Homo sapiens: one gene and its partners. The protein of the gene in region 1 interacts with the protein of each later gene in a pairwise test. Each region holds a gene or a part of one and is shown in the gene's direction. Other genes may lie near its edges.

Region 1 (4,011 bases):
TCTGTGCCACTTTGTGGGAAATTTCTGTCCTCCAGCAGCATAGATTAAGTTTCTCCCTGACTCACCTTGTCTCTCACTACCTGGCTCAGCAGATAAAGATAAAGGGGGCTGCAAGAGGATCCTGGTTCCTGATTCCCCTTACCTTTTCCTGTTTCTTTCTCCCTGGGCAGCATTCCCATTCACCACGCCTGTTCTGGTCTCCCAGCTGGAGCAAGGGGAACTGCCATGGGGCCTCGATCCCTGGGAACCTATGGGCAGGGAGGCTCTCAGAGGTATCTGTCCAGGTGAGCATGAGAACCCACTAGCTGCCTTTTTGGCTTGGCTTGCTTTCTTGTTTTCACATTTCATTGTGCAAGAAGTGTTTCTTCTCTTGGGAGACTGTTTTTGTTCCTGTGGAATCATTACATGTGATTCTCTGAGTTCATGGTGGTAGCCTACCTCAACTGGGGAAGGGCCAGTCTCTTTTAAGACAGGAATGACTGTAAGATTTCTTTGCATATTCGTCTTTGCCTGTCCTCCTCACAACCTGCCAAGGGAGACTGTCTGATTGGGCAGCACTTAAACCAGCTCATTTCTTCTCTGTCACATGAAAACATTTTATTTTTCTGCCAGTTTGTTTTTGCAAAGATGAGGATGTCAGCCACCTTTGGAGGAAAATAGGCTTCTGGCAACATGGCTGGCCATCTGCATATCATAGGCTACATTGTTTAAGCACTGACTTAAAGAATAAAAAGTTTGTTTTTATAATGGAAATTTTCAAATATATGCAAACACCAGCATAATGCACTCCATGTATCCTTCATCCAGCTTCAACAGTCACAAATATCCTTTGATTCTTATTTCATCTTTCCCCCACAGATACTTAAAAAAATTTCTGAAGCAAAATTTATTGTAAATTAAAGGTGAATAACTTTCTCACTTCGATGGCTATTGATATAAGAATTAAAAATAGGCTGGGCATGGTGGCTCATACCTGTAATCTCAGCATTTTGGGAGGCTGAGGCAGGTGGATCACTTGAGGCCAGGAGTTCAAGACCAGCTTGGCCAACATGACGAAACCCCGTCTCAACTAAAAAAAAAAAAAAATATATATATATATATATATATATATATATATATATATGGCCAGGTGTGGTGGTTCATGCCTGTAATCCCAGCACTTTGGGAGACCGAGGTGGGTGGATCACCTGAGGTCAGGAGTTCGAGACCAGCCTGGCCAACATGGTGAAACTCCATCGCTACTAAAAATACAAAATATTAGCATGGACGTGGTAGCACGTGCCTGTAATCCTAGCTACTCAGGAGGCGGAGGCAGGAGAATCGGTTGAACCTGGGGAGTGGAGGTCGTAGTGAGCTGAGATCATACCATTGCACTCCAGCCTGTGGGCAGCAAGCCACCCAGGTGCCAAGGCAAGAGACTGAGGGCACAAGCTGTTCCAGTATAATAAAGAAAATATATAGAATAAGAATAATTATGCTAGAAATAGATTATAGATATGATTATATATTAATATTATTAATCATTAGTTTGTAGCATTACTCTTTATTCCAATATTATAATAATCTCTGTTCTACAATTATAACCTAGGAAAAACCAGGCCATACAGAGATAGGAGCTGAAGGGACACTGTGAGAAGTGACCAGAAGACAAGAGTGTGAGCACTCTGTCAAGCCGGGACAGGGCCACCAGAGGGCTCCTTGGTCTAGCGGTAATGCCAGTGCCTGGGAGGGCACCCCTTACTTAGCAGACCTTGGTCTAGCGGTAGCGCCAGTGCCTGGGAAGGCACCCGTTACTTAGCAGACCGGGAAAGGGAGTCTCCCTTTCCCCGGGGGAGTTAGAGAAGACTGCTCCACCACCTCTTGTGGAAGGCCTGACATCAGTCAGGCCCACCCGCAGCCATCCGGAGGCCTAACCATCTCCCTGTTGATGCTGTGCTTCAGTGGTCACGCTCCTGGTCCACTTTCATGTTCTGCCCTGTACACCTGGCTCTGCCTTCTAGAAGAAATAATGATGTAAGCTGTCCCCTCTCTCTCTCCGCCTCGGCTACCAAATAGGGAAGGGCCCCCTGTCTGGTGGACATGTGACTCGTGTGACCTTACCTATCATTGGAGATGACTCTCACTCCATACCCTGCCCCTTTGCCTTGTACATAATCAATAACAGCACGGCCAGGCATTCAGGGCCACTACCAGTCTCCGCATCTTGGTGGTAGTGGTTCCCTGGGCCCAGCTGTCTTTTCTTCTATCTCTTTGTCTTGTGTCTTTATTTCTACCATCTCTCGTCTCTGCACATGAGGAGAAAAACCCAGAGGCCCAGTAGGGCTGGACCCTACACCAGCCTGAGTGACAGAGCGAGACTCTGTCTCAAAAAAAACCCAAAAACATCAAAAATTAGCTGGGTATGGTGGTGTGCACCTGTAGTACCAGCTCCTGGGGAGGCTGAAGCATGAGAATCACTTGAACCCAGGAGGTGGAGGTTGCAGTGAGCCAAGATTGCACCACCACACTCCAGCCTGGGTGACACAGCGAGACTCTATCTCAAAAATAAATAAATACATAAAACATAGTATATTTTTTAATCTTTCTTATTCTGCTTCACCCATTCTCTGCCTGTGAAAATTTTCTGTGCTCTTCTGCAGAGAATGCCCATTACTGATCCACCCCCAAGTCTTGAGTTTAAGTTGTACCTTTCTGGATGTGACCTCAGGACCCTACGTCATCTGAGTAAAAATATTTTCTGAACAATTTTTTGTGAATGCATGCAGGCTGAAGATTTTACTTAGTCTGCAAAAGGTTTTGATAGTGGAGGGAATATTTCTCTTTGGTTTTCCCTTATTATCATGTGAGTTTAGTAGTTCACTTTTCAAACTGTTGTATTAAACAAATGCACAACCTATGAGACCTTTTAGGAAAAATGGCAAGCATCGTTACCAGGCCCTCTTTGGGACTTACATTCACTCTTGGAAGAGTTCTTCACATTTCCAGTGCTTTTTGGTTTTAAAGGCAAGCCTCCAAACCTTCCTTTCTCCTGGATGCTGTGGTGGTTGCCATGCATGGCATCCTCAACCACTGCATGGGAGCCTGCTGCTTTACTAGAGCCAGCTTGATGGTAGAGATCAGCTCTCTTTTCAAGGTTATGACATGCATGATGTCTTTTAACAAGCATCTCTTAAGGAATCTCAGCCTGTGGGACCTGTTGTAGTGCTTGAACTGCTCAGCCTGCCCCTTCTCTAATCTTGGGAGTCTTCCTCTCACTTATGGATTTCCATTTGTTACTTTTTTTATGTTTGCATCTTTATCCACCTCATTCATTTTTCTCTTAGTCTTTCTGCCCTAATTAACAGTCTTTGCAGTTTTCTGGTTTTCACACTGTTTATGGGAATGCCTCCTGGCCTTGCTTCCCTCCCGTCTCATAGAGTTTTCATGTCCCTTGCAGGGCTCTGTTGTGTGGTGATCTTAGGCAGCCATCTTGTGAGCATATTAGAAAATATCCATATATTCAGGGCAAATTAGAACCACTTGATTCTGTTTCTTCTTCAGCACAGATATTGTGTGTGTGTGTGTGTGTGTGTGTGTGTGTGTGTGTGTGATATCAGGGACTGACATTTGTATTTTCTTTTTGTGATAGGGGATGAGGCCAGAACTGAGAAGGAAGGATTAACTCCAAAGGATCATGTGTCCAAAGAAACAGAGTCCTTCAGACTGATGGTGGGGGGCCTGCCAGGGAATGTTTCCCAGCACCTTGACTTTGGGAGCAGCCTAGAGCAGCCACAAGGTCATTGGATAATTAAGACAAAGTCAAAGAGGAGACATTTCACAGATACCTCAGCCAGGCACCATGAGGCCTATGAGGTCAAGAATGGAGAGAAGTTTGAGAAATTAGGAAAAAATATTAGCGTCAGCACACAACTCACTACAAATCAGACAAATCCTAGTGGTCAGATATCTTATGAATGTGGACAATGTGGCAGATATTTCATTCAAATGGCAGACTTCCACCGACATGAGAAA
Region 2 (4,011 bases), on another chromosome or scaffold:
TCCCACCTCAGCCTCCTGAGTAGCTAGGATTACAGGTGCCTGCCACCATGCCTGGCTAATTTTTGTATTTTTAGTAAAGGTGGGGTTTCACCATGTTGGTCAGGCTGGTCTCGAATGCCTGACCTCAGGTGATCTGCCCACCTCGGCCTCCGAAAGTGCTGGGATTACTGGCGTAAGCCACCGTGCTTGGCTTTTTTTTTGAGTCTTGGCTTTGGGTTTTGATTTGTTTTCCTGAGTAAGGAGTGCAAAGCCCCCACACGAGCTCCTGCTTCTTGGCTTCCTGAGAAGGAGCCCTTTCTCACTCTTTCTTCCCAGCTTTTCCCCAGTGACACACTCAGGGTCTTCCTAGGGTGCCCCACCCACTTCCTAGAGGCTCCATTCACACTGCCAGAGTGTGTGCCACCAGATTCCCACTAGAGAATTCAAAAGCACTGTGCACAGGCAGGAGGTACTACAAATAATCCTGACCCAAAAGTAGGAGCGAGAAGGGGCTTCTTGCTCCTGGGGTGAGTGGGTGGATGCCCATTCTGTTGAAGGGCCACCCAGGAGGAAGAAGGTGGAAGGCCCCATCTCCTTCCCTCCTGCATTCTCCAGGAAAGCTCCGGAAGTCCCACATCCCTGGAGTGAGCATCTGGCAGCTGGTGGAGGAGATCCCTGAAGGCTGCAGCACGCCGGACTTTGAGCAGAAGCCCGTCACCTCGGCTCTGCCAGAGGGTGAGCCCAGAGGGGAGCTGCGGAGGGGAGGCAAGATTCTTGCTCTCCTACCTCCCAGGGGAGAGGGCTGGGGCACCAACCTTCCTGGGGACCCAGGCCCTATATCCATCACTAGGCCATAGCCCATCTCCCTCCTATCCTTGAGGGGGTATGTGCTTACCTGGAACCCTAGAAGTGACAAGAGGCCTGGGGAAAAGAGTGGATAAAGAGAGTGAAGAGACACCATGCTATTCTGGTGTGAGAAATATCTGGGGGGCAGGGATGGAAAAATGCTAAACTGGGGAGCAGGGAGAGGTTGTGGTGTTTCCTGGTCCCTGTCTCCTCACCTCAAAGCCACTGCTGCAGAGAGGCACTGTTAAAACAGTTAATTTGACTCTTCCCAATCCTCGCCTCCAGGCAGCAGCACCTGCTGTGGCTCACAGGCTGGGCTCAGGAAGGCCCTTCTAGAAGGCCACATAAGAAGGTGTCCAAGAAAGTGGTGGGAACAAAGGCTTATTGGGGAAAAAGTGGGAATTGGTGTTCTTTCCCCAACACACACCCTGCAATAAATTTTAGTTCATAGCATCCTGGTAATAAGAAAAAGAATGGTATTTTATTTTTCTAAATCTGGAACAAGGTAATGAGAAATTGGGAAGGGCCCTTGGGCCTTTGGTCTATATTGCTGTCTACTGAGATGTTCCTGGTGGGAGGCTGAGGGATTCCTTGAGGGCGGGCAGTTCCCAGGCCTCCATGACAGGCATGGAGCATGGGGTCTTTTCTGAGGCTGAAGCCTGTGTCTCAGCACCGGATCCTTCGGGCACCAAATAGTCACTCCTTCTCCTAGTTGTGATTCCTCCTCCCCCTAGAGAGTAGGAAGGGAAGCCAGAAAATCTCTTCTTTTTTTTTTTTCTTTTTTTGAGATGGAGTCTCGCTCTGTTGCCCAGGCTGGAGTGCAGTGGCGCAATCTCTGATCACTACAACATCTGCCTCTGGGGTTCAAGTGATTCTCCTGCCTCAGCCTCCCAAGTAGCTGGGATTACAGGCACATGCCACCAAGCCTGGCTACTTTTTGTATTTTTAATAGAGATGGGGTTTCACCATGTTGGCCAGGCTGGTCTCGAACTCCTGATCTCAGGTGATACGACTGCCTTGGCCTCCCAAAGTGCTGGGATTACATGCGTGAGCCCCTGCGCCTGCCCGGAACTCACAAAATCTCATTCCCTTCCTAGTCTTGGCAGAGCCTTCAGACTCCTTGCTCACCCACTCTCAAAGAAAAGCCCCTGTCCCCTAAAGCCCTGCTGGCCTCCCCTTTCACCAGGGCCAGTCCACCTGTCTCTTTCCCTCAAGCAGCCCAAGCTTCTGCAATATAGAAAGAGGAAGCACTGCCTTCTGGGTGCCTGGAATCTGCTGCTTTCCACCTGCGTATTCTGAGTCCTGAGTCAAGGGGACCAAGGCCTGGCATCCTTTTTGGAAGGGGCAGTTGAAATACCTAGATGAGGAAGACGATATAAATTAAAATTTAAATAAAGTATACAGTCACCCTCTCCCAACTTGTCAGTCTCCCTACTCGTCTCTTCCTGCTGCAGGGAAAAATGCTGTCTTTCGGGCTGTGGTCTGTGGGGAGCCCAGGCCCGAGGTGCGTTGGCAGAACTCCAAAGGTGACCTCAGTGATTCCAGCAAGTACAAGATCTCCTCCAGCCCTGGCAGCAAGGAGCACGTGCTGCAGGTAAGAACCGTAGCTCTTCCCCTGACCAGGGTCTACTCGTCTTTTCCCATCCCCTTGAAGGTCTCTTTGGCAGCCTCCAATCCCTAGAGGAGTAAGACATACTCCTCGTTGAGGTTGAATCCATTCAACTCCATCTCGTGACTCAAAGTTGCCTGAGCCAAGAATGGATCTGGCAGGCTTGCAGATACCTCTGCTGATAACCTGGGAGGTGGTGTAGACTGGAGCTTAAGAGCTCAAGCTCTGAAGTCAGACTGCTGGAGTTACAATCCCAGGCCCACCACCTTGGCTTTAGAAAGTCATTTTACTCTTTTTACCTCTGTCTCCTCATTTGTAAAAATGGGATAATAATAGTACCTACTTTAAGGAGTTGTTATGAGTTGTTGTTGAGATGGATCTCACTCTGTCGCCCAGGCTGGAGTGCAATGGCGTGATCTTGGTTCTCTGCAACCTCCACCTCCCAGGTTCAAGCGATTCTCCTGCTTCAGCCTCCCAAGTAGCTGAGATTACAGGCATGCGCCATCACGCCCGACTAATTTTTGTATTTTTAGTAGAGTTGGGGTTTCACCATGTTGGCCAGGCTAGTCTTGAACTCCTGACCAACAATGATCCATCCGCCTCGGCATCCCAAAGTGCTGGGATTACAGACATGAGCCACTGCGCCTGGCCAGGAGTTGTTATGAGGATGAAAGTTTTATGTAAAGTGTCTAGCTAGTGCCTGGCCTATAGTGAGTACTCAATCAATCTTGGCTAATCTGAGCAATATTATAAATACTAACCATGGGATACCTACTATGTGCCAGGCCCTACTATGTCCCAGGGGCTAAATATTTGACATAGATTATATATTTAATTCTAATTATTCACCACTTTTTTGAGGTATTATATTCCCATCTTACAAATGAAGAAACTGAAGTTGAGAGAAGTTAGGTAACTTGCCCAAGGTCCCACAGCTAGTAATACAGGACAGAGACTGTTTTCAGGCCCAGATCCATCTGACCCCAAAAAGCACACTCTTTCTACTTCGCTACATTGCCTCTGATGGCAAAGAATTGATACATCCACCCTCTGTCCCAAACCAGGTTTCTGTTTTGGGGTCTGTCTTTCCTGATAAAGACTGTGAGCTCCATGAGGACAAGGACCATGTCTTACTCACTTTATACCCCCAACACATAGCCGTGTCTAGTAAATGGAGGAAGGGGATGTGGTAGCCCTGTTCCTCTGCCCTTGGCCTCTCTGCAGATCAACAAGCTGACAGGCGAGGACACGGATCTGTACCGCTGCACAGCAGTAAATGCGTACGGAGAGGCCGCTTGCTCAGTGAGACTCACTGTCATCGAAGGTGGGCTTTTCCCTGAGTTTGTCTCATCAGTGCACAGGGCAGAGACCCACAGAGGAATCAGATGCCCCGTGGCTAGTGAGGGAGGGGAGGGGAGGGAAGGGAGGCCCATCCAGGCTGCTGCCGCTGCTGCAGCCCCACCTTGTGCTGGGCCCCGGGCTTCATCCACATGCACACTGAGTCTGCATGTGTTTAAAAAGGCACACCTTGGCAGATACTCTGAAGGATATTCTCTTGGCCCAGTAAATGAGCAGGA
Region 3 (4,011 bases), on another chromosome or scaffold:
TCTCCTGCCTCAGTCTCCCACGTAGCTGGGATTACAAGTGCTCCCCACCATGCCCAGCTAGCTCTCTGGGATCACTTTTATAAGGGCACCAATCCCAACAGTGAGGGTTCTACCCTTATAACCTAATCACCCCAAAGGCCCCAACTTCCTGCTACTCACATTGGTGATTAGGTTTCAATATACAAATTTTGAGGGGAGAAAAAAAAATAAGCACACAAGACGTATTAGCCGTTGTTGTTTTCAACTAACATAGCATCCTTATCTGTTTCATCCCTTTCATTTTCTGTGCCTTTTATGGCCATCGGACTGAATTTGTTTGTTATTTGTCTGTGAATAGACTATGAGGTCCATGAGGACGGGGATGTTTTTGTATTCATGGTTGTATTTCCAGCACTTAGAACGGTGCCTGACACAAATTAAGTGCCCAGCTATTTCTTAAATGAATGACTGAACCCCATTTTGCTCTGATTAAACAAAGCCACTAGGTGGTTAATAGCATACCCAAGGCCATTCAGATGAAAGTGATAGAGCCAGATAGGATTCAAACCTAGGAAGTCTAAAGCCTATACTCTACACAAGTGAAGCTCCAAACACTTTCTTTTAGGTACCCTATACAGTCACCTACCTAGTCTAGGTCACTTGGTAGTTTATCCATGCATCCAGTGGTTTCCCATCCCTATTCCCTTACTCTTTTTGCATTTCACATGAACTCCATCTACCTTCACCTCTCCAGACCTTAGTGCAACTCATTGAAGAAACCTGAGGTTATCTCCCATTCATTAATTCACCCACTCAGTCAACAAGTATTTTTTTAAGTGCCACCTGTATACCATATCCAGACTTACATTTTGTTCAGCCACCTCTTGTATTATTTGTTTTCAACTTGCATTGTCCTTGGTTGTCAATGGCTTTGCTTCTTTTTAGGTGTAAGCTTTATATTATAGAAATGTTGGTTGATTCATGACAGGCTCTCTAGTGTAACAAATCCAAATTACAGTTCTAGATGCACACAGTTTGGGTTTTGAATTCCAGCCTTACTAAATTCCTTAATGTTTTTATTCCGTGATTTCCTATAAAATGATAATAGTATTTATTCCGTGGAATTATCGGGAGGATTAATCAATGTATGTAAGCTCATAGATGCTTGGTGTATACTAATAATAAACTTATTATTTACATATTATTTTATTTGTAGCTATACTTACTCAGCACAATATTATTATTTTTCTACTTCCATGGTGCTTAGTGTAGTTTTTGTTGTGGTTTTCTAGTTTGACTGAAAATGTAGAAGATTGCAATAGTCGTGTTCCTGAGTTTGACACATAATCATCATTGATCCCTGAAAGGCTGCTGTTTTTCTAATGTATTTATTCTTTTCATTCCTATAGCTCATTCCATTTCTTAATGCAAACATTTTAATGTTTTGTTTACATGTATTCTTGAGAATGTGTATCTTTTAACTTTACAGAAATGTAAATTATATGCTTTGTTTTAGTTCTCATCTCTTTTTTCCTACTCAGCACTGTTTTTGAAGTTATCTATTACTTTGTATACATCTAGTCCTTTGCTTCCAACTCTTATGTAATTCTTTGTGTGCGTCTACCAGTCTTTCTACTCCTACATTGCTAGGCATCCAGATTGCCTCCAGCTCCTTGCAACACATGCAGCATTAGACATTTCTCTTCTGGACCTCTGTGAGCATGTCTTTGACATATATAAATGTCTCCTTCATTTAACTAAGTGTACTGCCAGGTTATCTCCAAAATAGCTGCCCTGCTGTATATTAGTAGAGTTTTTTTCTCTATCATACGAGCACTCAGGATTCTCTGCTTGAAGACTCTTTAGGAATAAGATGTTTGCTCTCAAATATATGAAGAAATACCTATTGTAGAGTTAGCCTTCCATAATTTATTGAACCTAAAGCACCTCTGTTGTAAGATGCATCATTACATACATTGCTAAGGTTAAACACTTCCAGTTGAATTGTTAAGTGCCTTAGATTGTAAAATGCATTCCAATTTTAGAGATGTTAAAATGTGAGAAAGTGTGAGTCTGGAGTTGATGAAAGAATATTTAAAAAATATTTTTATTAAAGAATATGTATATGTATGTTAATGTGTGTATGTGTGTATATATATGTTTACTTCTTACATGCCCTGGGAATAACACCTTAGACAGGCAAACAGCACTACACACATGATATATATTTTTTCACTTATTTGTTTATGTATAAATTGGTATGTGACATATTTCTTTATATGTTTTAAAATAACACCTTTATTTGTATGTGTTATTATATGTTTAGTTATGTCTTTATTTTTGTCTTTATGTGTGAAGCACTCCAGATGAACAAAGTGCTACACTGTTTCTTGTGAGCAGTGATTCTAAAGCTAGTACACCCCACTGAATTTTGTCCCTCTGGTCGATTGTGAGGACTCAGAAGTATATTGGACTCCTGGTGTTAGAGCTGTTTGTTTTCTTGGTGTTTCAATGAGGTCCAGCTCTAGAAGAAAGCAAAGAAGGTTCATGGGGTATTTTGAAATGAACAGGGTCCCCAAAAGCCTGATGGATCTGGTAACACCACGCGGTATTTGATTCAAATCTATCTGGTAGCATCCTCTCTGAATTTTTAAGTGAAGAAGAAAGGGGCTCAATTTGGTAGTGCTGCCATATACTTTTTTTTTCTTTTAATTTTTTTGAGACAGAGTCTCACTCTGTTGCCCAGGCTGGAGTGCAGTGGCATGATCTCAGCTCACTACAACCTTCACTTCCTGTGTTCAAGCGATTCTTGTGCCTCAGCCTCCCGAGTAGCTGGGACTGTAGGCCCGTGCCACAACGCCCAGCTAAGTTTTGTATTTTTGGTAGAGATGGGGGTTTCACTATGTTGGCCAGGCTGGTCTCGAACTCCTGGCCTCAAGCAATCCACCCATTTCAGCCTCCCAAAGTGCAGGTGTGAAGCCACTGCACCCAGCCATGCCATACACTTTTTAGCCTGGGCAGGAAACTTAAAGCCTAGGTCTTGAAAGAAAGGTATTTTTAATTGGTCATTCATTCTCCAAAGCTTATTGAGCATCGTATGCTAACGTTATGAAAAATAAATTTTCCTCACTAGACTATAGCTCCATGATAATGGTTGGAAGTCACAGGAAAGGTAGATTTCTGCTCAGTGTAAGCCTGTTATTGCTATTAACATTGAAATGGCCTGATCTTAAGTTTCTGAGCTTCCTGTCATTGGAAGCATTTAAGTAGTCCTGAATAGTCAACTGTTAATAAATATTATAGGTATTTCTATTTTGGAAAGAGATTGAACCAACTGCCCAGGGTTTCAAGGATTAAGTTCAGCAGTTAATACCAGAGACTTGAAAAATGGTGGTTTCTGGTAACAGAGACCTGGAAACCATGGCTTAAGCAAGAGAAGGATTTTGTTTCTTTGGTATAACAAAAATCCAAAAATAGGTATTTTAGTAGACCTCAAGTGATTACTCCTTGATCGCATTAGGAACCCAGGCTCCTTTTAACCTTAGCTATTTTCAACATATGCTTTTCACCTGAAATCATAAGATAGCTTATCTGCCTCCAGTATTGTGTACATGTAAAAGGTGGTAATAAGGAGAAGGATAGTGGAAAAGGGGGCATGTGCCAAATGAGTCAGTCCTCTTTAAAGAGTTCTTCCAGAAGTTCAAGCCAGTGGCCTCAATTGACTAACATTGTATAGCATGACCACCCCTACCTACAAGGGATGGGAAGCTAACTGGACATGTTGTTACTAATAAAAACCAGAGTATGTCAGAAAGAAGGGAAGGTTTGATGTTGGGAGGCAAGTAAGTTTTTTCTTCTACCCATCAAAATCTTTTTTTAGTTAGAAAATATTTGAATCTAACATGTCCCACTCCATTGTGGCACCAATACAAATGGTTATGGATACATGGCTTTATTATAGTTTGTTACTAGGAATAGTCTTGGCCGTATTGATTTGAATTCTCCATGTCTAAAAACAGGAACAAGCAGGTC
Region 4 (4,011 bases), on another chromosome or scaffold:
GCTTTGGTCTATGCTAAGAACTGTCCCAAGATGCAACCAAAATGTATATGATTTTAGGGACTCAGTGGTCAAATATTTATGGACCACCTTCAAGTGTATTTAGAACTCTGTGGAAGGATGGCACAGAGTTCTAAGTTACAGTTTTAAAGTTATCTATAATTCAGTTCTCAGTTATCTATAATAAATTTGAGAGATGCAACACCTACACACAAAACAACTAATAAAGCAACCCAATATATAGAACAATTAGTGTTATGGCTATAACAATAATATGTGAAATGTTAAATTGTGTGCTACAAATACAGAATGGCATGTAATTAGCTAATTGTTTAATATTGTAATCAGCAATAATATTGATGTGAGGTATAAAGTGTGCTACAAATACAGAATGGCATGTAGTGGCATGTAACTAGTTAATCATGTTCATTCTGATCATTGTTGGGATTTAGGTAAGGAATTAATGTGATTTTATTTTATTTATTTATTTTTTTTGAGATGGAGTTTCTCTGTTGCCCAGGCTGGAGTGTAGTGGCCCGATCTCCGCTCACTGCAAGCTCCGCCTCTCAGGTTCACTCCGTTCTCCCTCCTCAGCCTCCCAAGTAGCTGGGACTACCGGCGCCCGCCACCATGCCTGGCTAATTTTGTTTTTGTATTTTTAGTAGAGATGGTGTTTCACCGTGGTAGCCAGGATGGTTTCGATCTCCTGACCTCGTGATCTGCCCGTCTTGGCCTCCCAAAGTGCTGGGATTACAGGCGTGAGCCACCGCGTGCCCAGCCATGATTTTTTTTTTTTTTTTTTTTTTTTAATGATGGTCAGACTCCATGAAGCAGGTGGCAGTGCCTTACCATATGTGTATTGTCAGGCCCGAGGGCCTCTTCCATCTTTGTCAAGTGGAGTGCCAACCTCTCCTTTCGTATAACACAAATTCATGTGATTTTAATGAGTGTTGCTTCTATGATTATATTCAAATGTCATAGTTTTTTAAAGCCTTTTTTTTTTTTGAGACGGAGTCTCGCTCTCTCGCCCAGGCTGGAGTGCAGTGGCGCGATCTCGGCTTACTGCAAGCTCTGCCTCCCGGGTTCACGCCATTCTCCTGCCTCAGTCTCCCGAGTATCTGGGACTACAGGCGCCCGCCACCATGCCCGGCTAAATTTTTTGTGTTTTTAGTAGAGACGGGGTTTCATCGTGTGTTAGCCAGAATGGTCTTGATCTCCTGACCTCATGATCCGCCCGCCTCGGCCTCCCAAAATGCTGGGATTACAGGCGTGAGCCACCGCGCACAGCCAAGCCTATTTTTTTTCTTATTTTACAATTGAAAACAGTGATTATTGGAATTTACTTTGAACAAGTGCATTATCAAATTAAATATATGAGTGTCTTATGTTCAGGATATGGTGCTTGACATTGAAACAGATGGACTCTTGCCTTAAATGTAGGGTAGTAAGTAATAAAAGGCTAATGTAATATATCAGATCTAAGGTATATGTAAATGTGATTTTTAACAATTTCAGAAGAAAGGGGAGATTGCAGCAGGTAGAGCTGGTCTAGGAAGCCTTCTTAGAGGAAGGATGTGATTTGAGGCTTTATGTTAGCAAGGCATAGGAGGATGATTTTGTTCAGAAAGCACAGGAAAGATAAAGTGCTACTTGAAGAGAGCAGTTAGTGGTTCTTCCTTTCAGTGCCAGATTGATGAGTATTTGCTGCTTTTTGGCAGAAAACTTTTAGCCTTTAATTACTAATGACCTGCCTCATTTTTCCTTTCCTTTTCTTAGTGAAGCTATTAAGTACCTCACAGAAGCTCTTCAGTCTATCAGTGAATTAGAGCTTGAAGATAAACTGGAAAAGATAATTAATGCAGTTGAGAAGCAACCCTGTAAGTAATATTTTCTGATAACTCCTAAATTGTTAATATAGTTCTGCATCTTCAGTTAGATGTATAGATTTAAATTGAAGTTGAGGCTTCACTATTAAGATGTCCCAGTGTTATAAGATGTATGCATGGTAGCATTTCTTCCCAAGGGGTAATACCTTTAGTTTATTTTAATTTTTTTTTCTTTCTTTTTTGGGATGGAGTCTCGCTCTGTTGCCCAGGCTGGAGTGCAATGGCGCTATCTTGGCTCACTGCAACCCCCACCTCCCGGGTTCAAGCAATTTTCTTGTCTCAGCCTCACGAGTAGGTGGGATTACAGGCACACACCTCCATGTCAGGCTAATTTTTTGTATTTTAGTAGAGATGGGGTTTCACTGTGTTGCTCAGCCTGGTCTCAAACTCCTGGGCTCACGCAGTCCACCTGCCTCGGCCTCCCAAAGTGCTAGGATTACAGGCGGGAGCCACCACACCCGGCCTTTTTTATTTTAACTGTTGATGACATCCAAACCCTTAGTTTAGTTGGAACCTCAGGATGATCCCCAAGGGCCCTTTTATAGTTCCTTTCCCCCAGTGGAGGTGTCACCACCATGTTTCCTGCACTTGGCTTCTGATTTTGATCTGGTCCTTTATGGTCACTTTGTCTCTCCTAGTGGCTATTACCATGTCTTATTTAAGTCATTAACTCCTAAATGTTTGGGAGGAAAAAAAGAAGAGTAAAGTAAACAGAGCTGACATCTCTTCTTGATTTCTTCAGGGATTTTTTTTTTTTAATAGAATGGCTAGTCATTTTAACTTAATTTTGTAAGTCTAAGTTAAAGGGCAGAGACAGTAACTTTTCAATAAAAAGCAATTCTACTAATGCACTGATAATGAATACACTAAACAGAGTTGGAAGGCATTTTACTGAAAGCAAACTGTAGAAAATAGACTTTTTTTTTTTTTTTTTTTTTTTTTTCCCTGAGAAGGAGTCTTGCACTGTCGCCCAGGCTGGAATGCAGTGGTGCTATTTCGGCTCACTGCATCCTCTGCCTCCTGGGTTCAAATGATTCTCCTGCCTCAGCCTCCCGAGTAGCTGGGATTACAGGTGTGCGCCACCATGCCTGGCTAATTTTTGTATTTTTAGTGGAGACGAGGTTTCACCATGTTGGCCAGGCTGGTCTCGAACCGCCAACTTCAGGTGATCGCCCACCTCGGCCTCCCAAAGTGCTGGGATTACAGGCGTGAGCCATTGTACCTGGTGAAAATAGACATTGATACAAAATTATATAACGCTTGTGATAAGAATAAGTGGGGCCAGGCATGGTGGCTAACACCTGTAATCCCAGCACTTTGGGAGGCCGAGGCTGGTGGGAACGCCTGAGTTCAGGAGTTCAAGGTCAGCCTGGACAACATGGCAAACCCTGTCTCTACTAAATATACAAAAATTAGCCAGGCATGGTGGCAGGCGCCTGTAATCCCAGCTCCTTGGGAGGCTGAGGCAGGAGAATCGCTTGAACCCGGGAGGCAGAGGTTGCAGTGAGCTGAGATTATGCCACTGCACTCCAGACTGGGTGACAGAGTGAGATTCCGTCTCAAAAAAAAAAAAAAAAAAGAATAAGTGGATTTCAAGAAAAGCACATTCTATAAAAGATGGTCATTTTTTTCTTGAGTATACCAAAGTTATGAAACATAAGGTGACCCAGGAAGGTAGAGGTTTGGGAACTCCTTCAAGGCATTTGCTTTCTACACACTGCTTCCCTCCTCTCCCTTTTTTTTTTTTTTTTTTGGTGAGAGCGGGACAGAGTCTCACTCTGTTGCCTAGGCTGGAGTGCAATGGCGCCATCTCGGTTCACTGCAATGGCGCCATCTCGGTTCACTGCAATGGCGCCATCTTGGTTCACTGCAGCCTCTGCCTCCCGGGTTCAAGCGATTCTTCTGTCCCAGCCTCCTGAGTAGCTGGGACTACAGGTGCGTGCCACCACACCAGGCTAATTTTTATATTTTTGGTAGAGACAGGGTTTCACCATATTGGTCAGGCTGGTGTTGAACTCCTGACCTCAGGTAATCCACCCACCTTGGCCTCCCAAAGTGCTGGGATTACGGGCGTGAGCCACCACACCTGGCCCCTCCTCTCTTTCTTCATGTTCTTTTTTGGAAAGTC
Region 5 (4,011 bases), on another chromosome or scaffold:
GGGACTACAGGTGCCCGCCACCACACCTGGCTAATTTTTTGTATTTTTAGTAGAGATGGGGTTTCACCGTGTTAGCCAGGATGGTCTCGATCTCCTGACCTCGTGATCTGCCCGCCTCAGCCTCCTCCCAAAGTGCTGGGATTACAGGCGTGAGCCACCGCGCCCAGCTGCAAACTCTTGATAGAAACCACCTATGCCTTTTTTTTCCCCACCTTCCGCTTCCCCAAATCAACGCCTGGCCAATGTCAGGACTATAAAATGTACTTTAGAATTGTCCTTTTCTTTCCTTGCTCTATTAGCAGTTTATAATGCATAACTTATGCTTTTTTCTTCAGTATGATTGTATATATATTCTTCAGTTGTAATACAAAATGTAATTCAAAGTTGAATGCTACATAACTACACTATCATAGTAATTCTGAATGTTAAGTTTTTATCTAGAAATGTCTAGAGCCAGAAACTCTGCCACAAATCATAAAAATTGTTTTCCACCTATTCTATTCTCATCACTGCCTTTTAAAAGTAAAAAACAAGCTGGGCACGGTGGCTCACGCCTGTAATCCCAGCACTTTGGGAGGCTGAGGCAGGTGGATCACCTGAGGTCAGGAATTCGAGACCAGCCTGGCCAACATGGTGAAACCCTGTCTGCGCTAAAAATAGAAAAATCAACCGGGTGTGGTGGCAGGTGCCTGTAATCCCAGCTACTTGGGAGGCTGAGGCAGGAGAATGGCTTGAACCCGGGAGGCGGAGGTTGCAGTGAGCCAAGATCGCGCCACTACACTCCAGCCTGGGTGACAGGGCAGGACTCCATCTCTAAATAAATAAATAAATAAATAAAACAATTACTCTTGAATTAGTTTCACTGACATGCTTAGTAGAATTTGAACAGTATGGTCTTCTTTCTTAAAAAAATATGTGTTTGAAATAAACTAGAATTTATTCTAGATAAGTTTATAAATATTTTATATTTATGGGTTATAAATCACTGTGGGTAATATCACTCAGTGATTGATATTTTAAATAAACCATAAAGTACTGAAAAGCCCATGAGACTGAGTCCAGAGGAGGGGGTCCTACCATTCCCAGGCTCTGTGGCTCCCAGGAGGGAAACGTGGTTTCCTCCTCACTCAAAAGAAGGGAGTTAATGAAATAAGATTTCTTCAAGCTTTAACTTTCTGTAACAGGATTAGCAAAGAACATTACCTGACTGGAAAAAAAAAAGATGATATATTTTTAAAATTCCTTATTTCTCTCATAACTAAAAACCCCACTTAAAATGTTATTTTTGGCTGGGCATGGTGGCTTACGCTTGTAATCCCAGAACTTTGGGAGGCTGAGGTGAGCGGATCATTGAGGTCAGGAGTTCAAGACCAGCCTGGCCAACATGGTGAAACCCCATCTCTACTAAAAATACAAAAATTAGCCAGGTGTGGTGGCAGACACCTGTAATCCCAGCTACTCAGGAGGCTGAGACACGAGAATCGCTTGAGCCCATGAGACAGAGGTTGCTTGAACCCAGGAGACAGAGGTTGCAGTAAGCCGAGATCATGCCACTGCACTCCAGCCTGGGTAACAGAGCAAGACTCTGTCTCAAGAAAAGAAAAAAGTTATTTTTTGGCCAGTTGTGATGGCTCATGCCTGTAATCCCAGTGCTTTGGGAGGCTGAGGTGGGCAGATTGCTTGAGCTCAGGAGTTCGAGACCAGCCTGAGCAACATAGTGAAACCCCCATCTCTACCAAAAATGCAAAAAATTAGCTGGGTATGGTGGCACACCTGTGGTCCCAGCTACTTGGGTGGCTGAGGTGGGAGGTTTGTTTAAGTCTGGGAGGCAGAGATTGCAGTGAACCAAGATCGCCCCACTGCACTCCAGCCTGGGTGACAGCATGAGACTGTGTCTCTAAATAAATAAATAAAATGTCATTTTTATTCATCATCCTCTCTGCTTATTGCCTAGTGTCTGATCACAAACCACAAGATAGTTCTTTTTTTTAAGAGACAGGATTTCTCTCTTTCACCCAGGTGGGAGTGCAGAGGTGCAGTCATGGCTCACTTCAGCCTCAAATTCCTGAGCTCAAGTGATCCTCCCACCTCAGCCTCCCAAGTAGATTGGGACCACCCGATCATACTACACACAGGTAATTTTTTTTTTTTTTTGTAGAGATGGGTTCTCGCTATGGTGCTTAGACTGGCCATATACCCCTGGCCTTCAGGTACCCTTCCACCTCAGCCTCCCTTCCAGAGTGCTGGGATTACAGGTGTGTGCCACTGCACGTAGCCAACATAATTCTTTTATATTGGTTTGAGGGTCATTCCTATGCTCCTCTTTTGAAAATAGCCAATGTGGCTAAAATAGAGTGCATAAATTAAGAGTGTTATAACTTAACTGACTTTTAAAGCCATTACTATTGACCTTTGAGACCTGGCTTTTTTCTTTGGTCCCATCAATCACTTCTGTACCACCTCCCCCAGTATAGAAGGACAAAAGGTTAGACAGATGCAGATACAGCTTGTATTACTGGGAATTATAGTGGTAAGAAGAAGGAGGTGGGGAAGAATAAAGGAACTACCATGTTTTTAGTTCTTATATTTCATAGTGATTATAACTAATATAATTAGAAGATTAAAAAATATTAATACCTTTCTATATTTAGGTCATACTACTAGATATTACACTGGAACTTCAGAAGCAAATTATGTCTGAATTGGAAATTCTTTATAAGGTAATTTTTTCATAATTTTTATTTGTAAAGCATGCCTATGGTATTGACTTGCAGGTTTATAACTACTTTTGTCTTATTTTTGTTACAGTGCGATTCATCATATATCATTGGATTTTATGGAGCATTTTTTGTAGAAAACAGGATTTCAATATGTACAGAATTCATGGATGGTGAGTTTTCCCTTTTATAATACTTTTAAAATGATTTTTAGAGTATATAGTGCTTTAAAACCTGGTTTTGATATAGATATCAAATAGAATTAAAGATAATAAAATATGCTAATAATTACCTCATTTATACTCTAAGATTATTTCAGTGTTAGGGGTTCCTGGGGTTAAATATTTATAGCCGAACTGTAATTTTAAGAATTGAACTTCACTTTTATTGAAAATTTAAATAGAACAGATTAAATGCTAGTCTAATTGGTGGTTTGATATTTGATTCTTTTGCACAATCTGTCTTTACTTGCAAAACAGATGTTCTGTTCTTTTAATGTTTCAATAGCCAAAACAGATTTTCTTTTAAAGAAATCTATTAACCCAATGTCCTGTGTCTTTCAGAAAGAAATCGGTTCTTAATTGCAAGATAAGAAATTGTTTTTCAACACAGCTGTTTAGCCAAGATGTGTTTAATTTTCTTTGGACTTTAGCCCTTTCCTTCCCTCTCTATTTTTTTATTCATTTCTATTTTGGTAGTTCTTTCTTGACCTGAATATTACGGCAAAATACAGATTTCTAGGGACATATCAGTGAAATGATGTCATCATTATTATTATTTACCAATTTTAAATCTAAGCAGTCTTTAAATTTTACATATTCAGTTTTCCATAGTCTAGTCCATTAAAACACAACTTAAGAAAATATTGTTAGTTCCTTGTGGAGATTCTCAGTACATTACTAAAGCAATTAGTTTGTGCCCTGCAAAACTTTAATGAGCCAACATTGGTACCTTGATACTGTCATAAGGTGTACAACATGCTCTAAATTAGTTATAGTAGAATGTCAAAAATTAAAAATCTTACAGCCATATAGGTAAGTATGGTAACTGTGGAGACTGACCAGAAAAAGTGGATTCATTGAGCCAGTACATGTTACTGTGTTGTAACTTTTATCATTCTTTCTTTGAAGTCTTCAATTTTTCAGTTCTACTCAAACATTTTTGTTGAAACAGGGCACGGTGGTTCACGCATGTAATCCCAGCACTTTGGGAGACTAAGGTGGGAAGATTGCTTGAGCCCAGGAGTTTGAGACCAGCATAAGCAATATAGTGAGATCTCATCTTTACAAAAAAA
Region 6 (4,011 bases), on another chromosome or scaffold:
TTCAGTGTGTGCGGCAGGAGGTTGGTGTCACTACTCAAGCGACTGCTTTTAAATGCCATCTCTGTTCTGATGGAATCTTGAATAGTGTCCCCTTATGTTATTTGATAACGTAATTGAGATGGGCATTGATGAAGACTTTCAGTCTGTGTAACTGACTATATGAATGTGTGTTACCTGGGCCCCTGTTGGTTTGTTTTTCATAAGATAGTATTTTGCCCACTTAAAAAATGTTGTTCAAGTAAAGAATGGCAGAAATGACGGTAGTAGGGTCACCTCAGCCCTGCACACCCTTTTTTAACGGAGGCAGTCGAAGCTGGTTTTTCCTTCAACAGATAGGAAATCCAGAGGTATATTTGGGGAAAGCAGAGAACTTTTACACCTTGTGGGAAAGGACTGTCAATATATTTTGCCCTTGCTGGTGAAACTATAAAAATTGTCCAGACAGTGGAAAAATTGGGTGACAGAGGAAATCCTGGTGCGGACTCCCAGATGTGTAACTGGAGGGAGGTGTGGTCTTCCTCATTGTTTGTTTGAAGGTAGGAAATAATTACAGAATAAAACAGGGCAGGGTCTGGCTGAGGACCAGAGCACTGCTTGTGAATCCCCTTCAAATGGGGACTCAACAGTGAATGGGAGAAGCAAAGGTGAATCAAAAAAGCCCACTCTTTGGAAAGGTGGCCTCTGCTCTTTCCTCTGCTATGGGCCTTACACCCTCTGCTGAGGCCATCAGTGTTACACCCTCTGGTGAGGCCTGAGCTGTGTGACTTTGGACCAGTAATTTAACCTCTTTGGGCCTCACTTCTTTCGTCTGTAAAATGGGCCTAATGCATACCTTACATTTGTAGTGGGAAGTAAATGAAATAGGAATCAGGGCTTCATACCACTTCACATACTGAAAAGCTTCTCCGGATATTGGCTGCCATCTCCACGCCCTTTTCATTTCTTTCTTTGCTACTGATGGCCTCTGCTACCTTTCGTTTCTTACCACCTTGGAAGAAATAAACTAAAAGGTCCAGCAATTCTCTTCTTCCCCATGGGGTGGAAATAGAGCCAACTCCTTTTGACATCTTTGCAACCGTGTTCAGAAGTGAAAGAGTCTGAAATAGTTACAGTGTCCCCCATCCACCCCAGCCCTCCCCTTCTGTCCCCCTCCCCAGGCTGGCAGGCGGCCCTCCAAGTGAGCAGCCTACTCAATGACCCACCTAGAGAGGCCTTCCCCGGCTGGCTTGTGTATGCTAATAGGCCTGACTTGTCCTGGCTTGTTTGTAGTGATTTGTGGAGGCATTTATATGCAAATACTATCAACTTGCAGAGTTAATTATCATGTGCCTCCCCTCTACCCCCTCCTGCTCGGCCTCCCAGCCTGGCTGGGCTGTTCTCATTCAGCACCACGCTCTTCCTGTCTTGGCCTCGCCTGTCCCTTGCCCTGTCCCCTTCCTATACCTGCAGGCCCCATCACAGCTCCTTTGCTGCTCCGTTGCCTGTCACAGGCACCCAGGCCTAGCCTGTGTGGTCAGGCATGGTGAACTGGGCATGCCAGTGACTCCCCCAGTTCAGACTCTCTGTTAGAGGCCTACTCTTGCTTGTGGGGGAGCCTGCCTTATGTTGCTTTGAGTTTTAAGCCCCATGTTTACCTACTAGCTTGAAAAACAGAGCTGCCCAGACATAATCAACCCTTGACACTCAACCCAGTCTGGCGACAAAGCGATTATAGTTTTTAAATTATTAGTAGTATTTTCATTTCCTCACATTGCTTATACCGCTCAAACTTATGACCAGTTCCGAGCTCTGGAGAGAAGCCATTTTGCAAAGGGATGTCCCCTCCTGCTCCTGGATATCTGAGTATTAAAAATTTGCTTGGGTTGTGCATGGTGGCTCATGCCTGTAATCCCAGCACTTTGGTAGGCCTAGGCAGGATTGCCTGACCTCAGGAGTTTGAGATCAGCTTGGGCAACGTGGTGAAACTCCATCTCTACTAAAAATAAAAAAATAAAAAAAGAGATACTTGGGTGGATCTCAGGCCTGGTCACTTCCTGGTTGTGTGTTGGCACTGTTGATGTTTGGGGATAATTGTTTTTGGGGGGAGTGGGCCACCTTGTGCATTGTAGGACATTTAGTATCCCTGGCATCTCCCCACTAGATGCCAGTAGCACCTTCTTCCCTTGATGTGACAATCAAAAATGTCTGCAGGAATTGCCCACTGTCCCTTGGGGAGGCAAAATCGCCTCCAGTTAAGAACACCTGAAATAGAGGTTACATTTGCTTCTCCTGGTCTAAAACAATGGCAGGTTCCCGGCCACTCCCCCCATTTAGACACCTTCACTGCAGCCTGGGAGTTGAGCAGCCTCTGCGTATGTGATTCCACCTGATACCAGATGATGCTGTTTGCTCAATTTTACACTGGTCTTTTTGGCATTTAAAAATGAAGAATCTGGGCTGGGTGTGGTGGCTCAAGCCTGTAATCTCAGCACTTTGGGAGGCAGAGGCAGGCGGATTGCTTGAGCTCAGGGGCTTGAGACCTGCCTGGGCAACATAGGGAGACCCTGTCTCTACAAACTTTTTTTTTTTTTTTTTAATTAGCTAGGCTCGGTGGCATGTGCCTGTAGTCCCAGCCACTCAAGAGGCTGAGGCAGGAGGATCTCTTGAGCCCAGAGGTTTGAGCCCAGGGGTTCGAGGCCAGCCTTAGCAACATGGCAAGACCTTGTCTCTACAAAAAAAATACAAAAATTAGCCGGGCGTGGTGGTGCACGCCTGTATTCCTAGCTACTCGGGAGGCTGAGGTGGGTGGATTGCTTGAGCCCAGGAAGTAGAGGCTGCATTGAGCCGTGATTGTGCCACTGCACTCCAGCCTGGGTGACAGAGTGACATCCCGACTCAATAATAATAATAATAATAATAATAATAGTAATAAAAAGGAAGAGTCTTTCCTTTTAGAGCATGGTAATGTGCTAGCACTTGAGGTGGTAACATTTGCACCTCTCTAGTGCTGTCCAATAGAGAGAGAGAGAGAGAGAGTACAAGCTTATATGTAATTGTACATTTCCTAGTAGTCATTCATAAAAAGTAAAAAGAAACAGGTGGAATTAACTTTAAAACAGATATTTTCAGCAACCCACGATTTCACCATGATGTTCTGGTCTCAACGCTCAGAACCAGCCCCATGTCCAGTGCTCAGAAGCCGCGTGCAGTTGTGGCCGTCATATTGGATGGCTTAGTTCTCAGATGATTCTGGGCCTTTGCAGCCATGACGTCAGGTCGTTTTCTACTGTTACTGAGTCAGGGAGGAAGTTTTTTTCTTCTGTTTATTCTCTGAAAGGTAAGGCCTTCCTTGGCTGCACAGCTGCAGCTGAGAAGCGGATTCTGAAGGGGCAGGGTCTCTAATCTCTAGGGAAGCTCCCCCAGCCTCCACAGTGGGGAAGCCCTCTAGACAGGATTTTGGGCTGAGCCTGGATAGTTGGGGGGGTGGGGGAGTCAATATCCCGAGGGCCCCGTGGACTCTCGCACCACACAGACTAATGCTTCAGGTTAATTTTGTGTACAAGGTCCCTTTTGTTGGACAAGGGGATGAAAGTCCACAGCTGTGACTGGAAAGAGGGGAAGGACCCTCTGGGATGACCTTGTTTTGGAAAGTCTAAATGGAATACTAATGGCCGAGATCTAAGAAGGGTGATGTATGTGTGTGTTTGACTGGGCTTAAAGATAAGGTGAAGAGTATTTTAAAAGTTGGTGTGCAGCTTCCCAGATAACCGTATGCCTGGGGCCAGTTACGATTTATGGCAAGCTGGTAGTCATGGCTGTGTGTTGGTCTCACTTTATCTTTTGAATCCTGGCTCTATAGCTTAACCGGTGGTGCTCTGTTTGTTTATTTTATCTTTTTTGGGTGGGTGGGGGACATGGGGGTCAGCCAGGTTTTACAGTGAAGCATAGCAGCATTTTATAACACACGAAGGGCTGTTCATATTTCTGCTCCTGGGTGCCCTGGGCTGTGTCACTTTTTACTGTCCCTAATGA
Region 7 (4,537 bases), on another chromosome or scaffold:
CATCAACTCATCATTTACATTAGGTATTTCTCCTAATGCTATCCCTCCCCCAGTCCCCTATCCCACAACAAGCCCCAGTGTGTGATGTTCCCCTCCCTGTGTCCATGTGCTCTTATTGTTCAACTCCCACTTATGAGTGAGAACATGTGGACAAAATTCTTAACAATCTATCAAATGTGTTTCAAATCTATTGATCCTTAGGTTTATCCAAAGATTCTTTAATCCTGATCACCTCTCGGGGTCATGAGCCATATCCTTTTTTTCCTCCCTGTGTAAGGTAGAAACGTTGTATTTATCTAAAAGCATTGTATAAAAACATCGTATTTGTCTTTCCCCAATTTTAATAGGGCAGCTATCTAATCTCACACTGATATCCCAGACTTTAGTGCACTGAGCCACTCTCACACAGGATCAAGCTAGAAGTGAGAAGATCTGGTCCGATTCTGCCACAAGATGCTGTGTGTCTTAGGGCACGTTGCCCAGCCTCTCTGACACCCTGTTTCCTTGTCTAAGCTGGGGCTGTGAGTGTTCACAGCCTTTTGAGTCTGCACATGCTCTAATTGAAGTCATGCTATAGACAAGGATCATGTGCCCTCACAGTCTTGTTTTTCAGCACTCAAAAGTCATGCTTCTATGATCATGAATTAGGTTCAGAAAGTGACAGAGTAAGTAGTCACAGGAATGTAAAGAGCCCTACCCCACTGAATCAATTGTGACTAAAACACTTTGGAATATAAACTTCTACAATACACACGTATAAGACATAATTACAAAAAAAAAAAAAAAAACAACAACAACTTGGGGGAAGAGTTAGTTGACCATATGAAAACTAGGGTGGACCTGTGAGGCCACATACCTGCTGTTCTCCTCAGACGGGGAAGTGTTTCAGGGTGGGGCGCCTAGGCAGTCTACTCTTAGGGCTGTGTAATATTAAACCCAGAAAATGTCTGGGTTGCTCTGTCAACAAATATTTATTGGTAGCCACTATATGCCGGGCCCTGTGCTAGGTATTGGGGGCCTGTAGGTGAACCCTACGGACAGACCCATTCTTTCACGGAGCTAACATTCTCGTGGGGAAAAGAGGTAATAAACAATTCTAATGATGAATCAGCGATAGAGGATAAAGGGAATCTGTGAGGGAAGAGGGGACATAAACGCTGGGAGGCTGGAAGAGCCCCTTACGTGTTATCCACTTGTCCAGACGCCATATTCATAGTTGAGAAAGATGAGGCAGAGACGGTAGTGACCGGCTTGAGCCTAGACTGCGCCAAGCTTGCCAGAGCAGAGCCGGGTGGAAACTGTCTTCCTGCAAAGCCAGGTTTTCCTTCACGGCCCCTCCTAATGATGTTTCTTTTCCTATCATTGTCGAGCCCTTAGAACCCCAGGATCGAGGGAGGGAAAACAAGCGCTCAAGCACTCCCTCGTTGGTCCCAGGACACAAGGCCTCGTCCATCTCACAAGGCCTCGTCCATCTCCCATCACACCCTAGGGCCCAGGCAGAAGCCCGGCGGGGCGGGGCCTCGGACACGCGCCGGTGCGTCCAGCAGGTGGCAGCAGCGAGCGGCCGCGCCCCCTGCGCTGCCAACCCGCGAGCCCGCATCATGGATGTCGAGCTCCCCTATTTCGCATTGCTAGCCCTGGAATTCGAGACCCCAGACGAGGACCAGGATTCATGAAATCAGTCGCAGGGGCCGGGGCAGGGGCCTCTGGCTCCCGACACTGGCCGAGAGGTGGGTTCCGGGGCGGGTCGCTGCTCCTTGAAGCCGGGCGGGGACGCGCTGCCCCCGCCCTGCCTCCCTGTGGTCCACACCCCCTTTGGGCTCCGGAGCCGCTGGGCAGGAATAGTCCGGGGTGCGCGCGAGCAGGCGCTGCCAACCCCACTTCTGCCCGGGATTCCAATCTGAGGAGCAGGAGGACCGGGGCGCCGGTGTCCTGCCGCCTCCTTCTCCTTGCTCTCACCTGCGCCTATTAGTCCACGCGCCTTCAAGGCCAGGGGCTACAGCCCAGACAGAGAGGGGACAGCAGAGGGAGAGAGAGCACCTGAGGATACAGAGCTGGCACTGGACTGCCTTTTCACCCCCCAGGTGATGAGTGAGGTTCGAAGAACGGAAGATTTAAAAAGCAGCCGGGGCCTCCGTATTGAATGAAAGACCCAGTGCAAAGACATCACCATGAACACTAGCAGTAAGTGGATCCTCCTCTCCTTTGCCATGGGAACAGGGGTGGGGGCGGGAGGTGAGGGAGCCTGCGCTCGGGCTGCCTGGAAAGAGGAAGGAAGCCTGGCATCTCTGGACACATGACCCCCAGGCTCTTTTTTGGTGCTTTCCGTGCTCCTTGGCAGAGGGATAGCTTCATGACTCTGGCTTTTCGTGATAATTTTGCCAATATTTTATCAGCGGCGCCGGCCGCCTCTCCTGGGAAGGCTGCTCGTCTCCTTCTAGCACTGCCTGGGAAGGCCTAGGAAGCAGTGTGTGGCCATTGTCTGACTGTGGGGGCTCTGAGGAGAACTCCCTGCACACATCTGGAAAACCATGGAGGGCCCTGCCTGTCCCAGAGGTGGGAAGAGCAGGGAGGCTGGCCTGTGGGCAGGCGGGAGGGTAGGTGGGTGTGGGCAGGCAGTGGGCTGGGAAGCCGCAGTTTGATAAACAAATAATCGCCAAGCCACCTTTGGGTCTGGAGATTGTGAAAGATCCAGCTCCCGAGTGCCTGCAGCCCGGTGGGCCCAGGGCTGGTTTCTCTATGTACCTGCAGGCTGGTTAGCTATCCTTGAGAACAAGAAGACAGGAACAGCCCTTTGGCCAAGGGCTCTAACATGCCAGAGGCAACAACTGCTTGCAGAGCCAGGACCAGATATTTTGCTGCCAGGTAGGGCCTCAGCTACTGAGAATGCAGTCCGAAATTCAAGAAGGCACAGTCTGTTTCTCTTCAATGTAGCGCTGTGACCTGGGAGGGCATATCTTGGTTCCAGACTCACTCTCCTGCCCTCTTGTCAGCTTGGCCTGTCTAGGTTATTCCAGCATCGCATAGGGCTGTTGAACCAGAGAACCCCTATGAACAGTCACTTCCCTGGGTCTATGACTTTGTTATCAGTCCCCTCTCTGCATCTCAGACTGCTCATCTGTATGATGAGAGGGGTTGAATTAGAAAGCCTTCTAATCGGCCAGGCACCGTGTTCCATGCCTGTAATCCCAGCACTTTGGGAGGCAGAGGCAGGTGGATCACGAGGTCAGGAGTTCGAGACCAGCCTGACCAACATGATGAAACCCCGTCTCTACTAAAAACACAAAAATTAGCCAGGTGTGGTGGTGTGGGCCTGTAATCCCAGCTACTCAAGAGGCTGAGGCAGGAGAATTGCTTGAACCTGGGAGGCAGAGGTTGCAGTGAGCCGAGATCACACCACTGCACTCCAGCCTGGGCGACAGAGTGAGACTCTGTCTCAAAAAATAATAATAATAATAATAAAAGAAAGCCTTCTAATCTAAGAATCTACACTTTTTTTCTTAAAAAGCTAGAGCTGAGCAACAAGGCCAGAACTATCAAGACCTTATTGAAGCTGTATCCAGCCAAAACCTACTATTTCCTCACACACCCCACCCCACCCCCACCTCCTAGCATGGAAGAGAAAAAAAAAAGCAAAAGCTACTGAGATGAAAATAAAATATATTTATTTACTACGTATTTGTATGATTCATCTCTCTGCTGTCTTCCTTTGTGTATTGCATATCTATGCTAAGCTAGCGAGTGTGGCTGGACTCCCTCTGCCTCTTACAGCCAAAGAATTTTGCCTTTTGATTTTGACAGGCTGGAATGGTGTTTTGGCTTCATACCAGGCTCAGGAAAAGAGGAAAATCCTGTAGCCTCTATCAGCTAGTGGGTCACATGTTTGCATTTGCATGTTTTCAGGCAAATAAAGATGTGAGTTGCCTGTCACTTCTCACTATCTCTAGGAAAAAAAAATGTATTTATGAGAGTCCTTTCCCACTAAGTGACAGAAAAGAAAGATGGCTCATCTATTTTTCAAGGAACTAAGAAAAGAAACAGGCAACTGACTCTGCCCTTTTCTCTCTCTGGAATGCTAAGGAACTCTTGTCCTATTAGTAACACTGAGTATTCCTGAAAGAAGGAAACAGACTATCCTTCTTTTAAGAAAAAGAAAGAAAGAAAAGAAAAAAGAATCAATAGAGTTGGATACTGCAGAATATGAGGACTGGCAAAAATGCCACTACTTTTTATAAGCAGGGAGAGTGTGTGAATTTTGCAGTAATGGAAAATGAACAGAGGAGAATGGCTCAGCAGCCTTGGAAGCCCTCCGGGTTCCCCCCAGGAGGAAGTGCTTCTCTAAACAGACACCTGGGGGACACAGCAAGCACAGAGCTTTGAGGGCTTAACTCCATCATCATGGAGGTACCTCCCAAACCCACGAGTCTGCAAATGCAGAGAGTAGACATCAGACCTCACAAGAAAAGGAGTAACAGAGCCATAGGGTGATATGGATAGGGCATTGGCAGGAGGTCCTTGGGTCACCTGACTAAGCAAA

The links.
Region 2: the proteins of ZNF620 (region 1) and IGFN1 interact in binary tests that used the Homo sapiens proteins (3 or more experiments, as listed by UniProt).
Region 3: the proteins of ZNF620 (region 1) and PIBF1 interact in a two-hybrid assay, tested with the Homo sapiens proteins (one large-scale study listed by BioGRID).
Region 4: the proteins of ZNF620 (region 1) and POLE2 interact in binary tests that used the Homo sapiens proteins (3 or more experiments, as listed by UniProt).
Region 5: the proteins of ZNF620 (region 1) and MAP2K5 interact in binary tests that used the Homo sapiens proteins (3 or more experiments, as listed by UniProt).
Region 6: the proteins of ZNF620 (region 1) and ZFHX3 interact in binary tests that used the Homo sapiens proteins (3 or more experiments, as listed by UniProt).
Region 7: the proteins of ZNF620 (region 1) and ABLIM3 interact in binary tests that used the Homo sapiens proteins (3 or more experiments, as listed by UniProt).

Annotation. Positions count from the first base shown.
Region 1 is NC_000003.12:40,512,232-40,516,242, forward strand, and holds part of ZNF620 (zinc finger protein 620), read left to right. Parts: intron 1-170; coding exon 171-284; intron 285-3,628; coding exon 3,629-4,011. UniProt on the Homo sapiens protein: May be involved in transcriptional regulation.
Region 2 is NC_000001.11:201,193,560-201,197,570, forward strand, and holds part of IGFN1 (immunoglobulin-like and fibronectin type III domain-containing protein 1), read left to right. Parts: intron 1-594; coding exon 595-714; intron 715-2,279; coding exon 2,280-2,419; intron 2,420-3,658; coding exon 3,659-3,758; intron 3,759-4,011.
Region 3 is NC_000013.11:72,784,979-72,788,989, forward strand, and holds part of PIBF1 (progesterone-induced-blocking factor 1), read left to right. Parts: intron 1-4,011.
Region 4 is NC_000014.9:49,681,456-49,685,466, reverse strand, and holds part of POLE2 (DNA polymerase epsilon subunit 2), read left to right. Parts: intron 1-1,773; coding exon 1,774-1,874; intron 1,875-4,011. UniProt on the Homo sapiens protein: Accessory component of the DNA polymerase epsilon complex. Participates in DNA repair and in chromosomal DNA replication.
Region 5 is NC_000015.10:67,643,580-67,647,590, forward strand, and holds part of MAP2K5 (dual specificity mitogen-activated protein kinase kinase 5), read left to right. Parts: intron 1-2,651; coding exon 2,652-2,720; intron 2,721-2,808; coding exon 2,809-2,890; intron 2,891-4,011. UniProt on the Homo sapiens protein: Acts as a scaffold for the formation of a ternary MAP3K2/MAP3K3-MAP3K5-MAPK7 signaling complex.
Region 6 is NC_000016.10:73,037,681-73,041,691, reverse strand, and holds part of ZFHX3 (zinc finger homeobox protein 3), read left to right. Parts: intron 1-4,011.
Region 7 is NC_000005.10:149,139,925-149,144,461, forward strand, and holds the start of ABLIM3 (actin-binding LIM protein 3), read left to right. Parts: upstream 1-1,568; 5' UTR 1,569-1,730; intron 1,731-1,806; exon of another isoform or gene 1,807-2,084; 5' UTR 2,085-2,171; coding exon 2,172-2,184; intron 2,185-2,191; exon of another isoform or gene 2,192-2,865; intron 2,866-3,508; exon of another isoform or gene 3,509-3,674; intron 3,675-4,537. UniProt on the Homo sapiens protein: May act as scaffold protein. May stimulate ABRA activity and ABRA-dependent SRF transcriptional activity.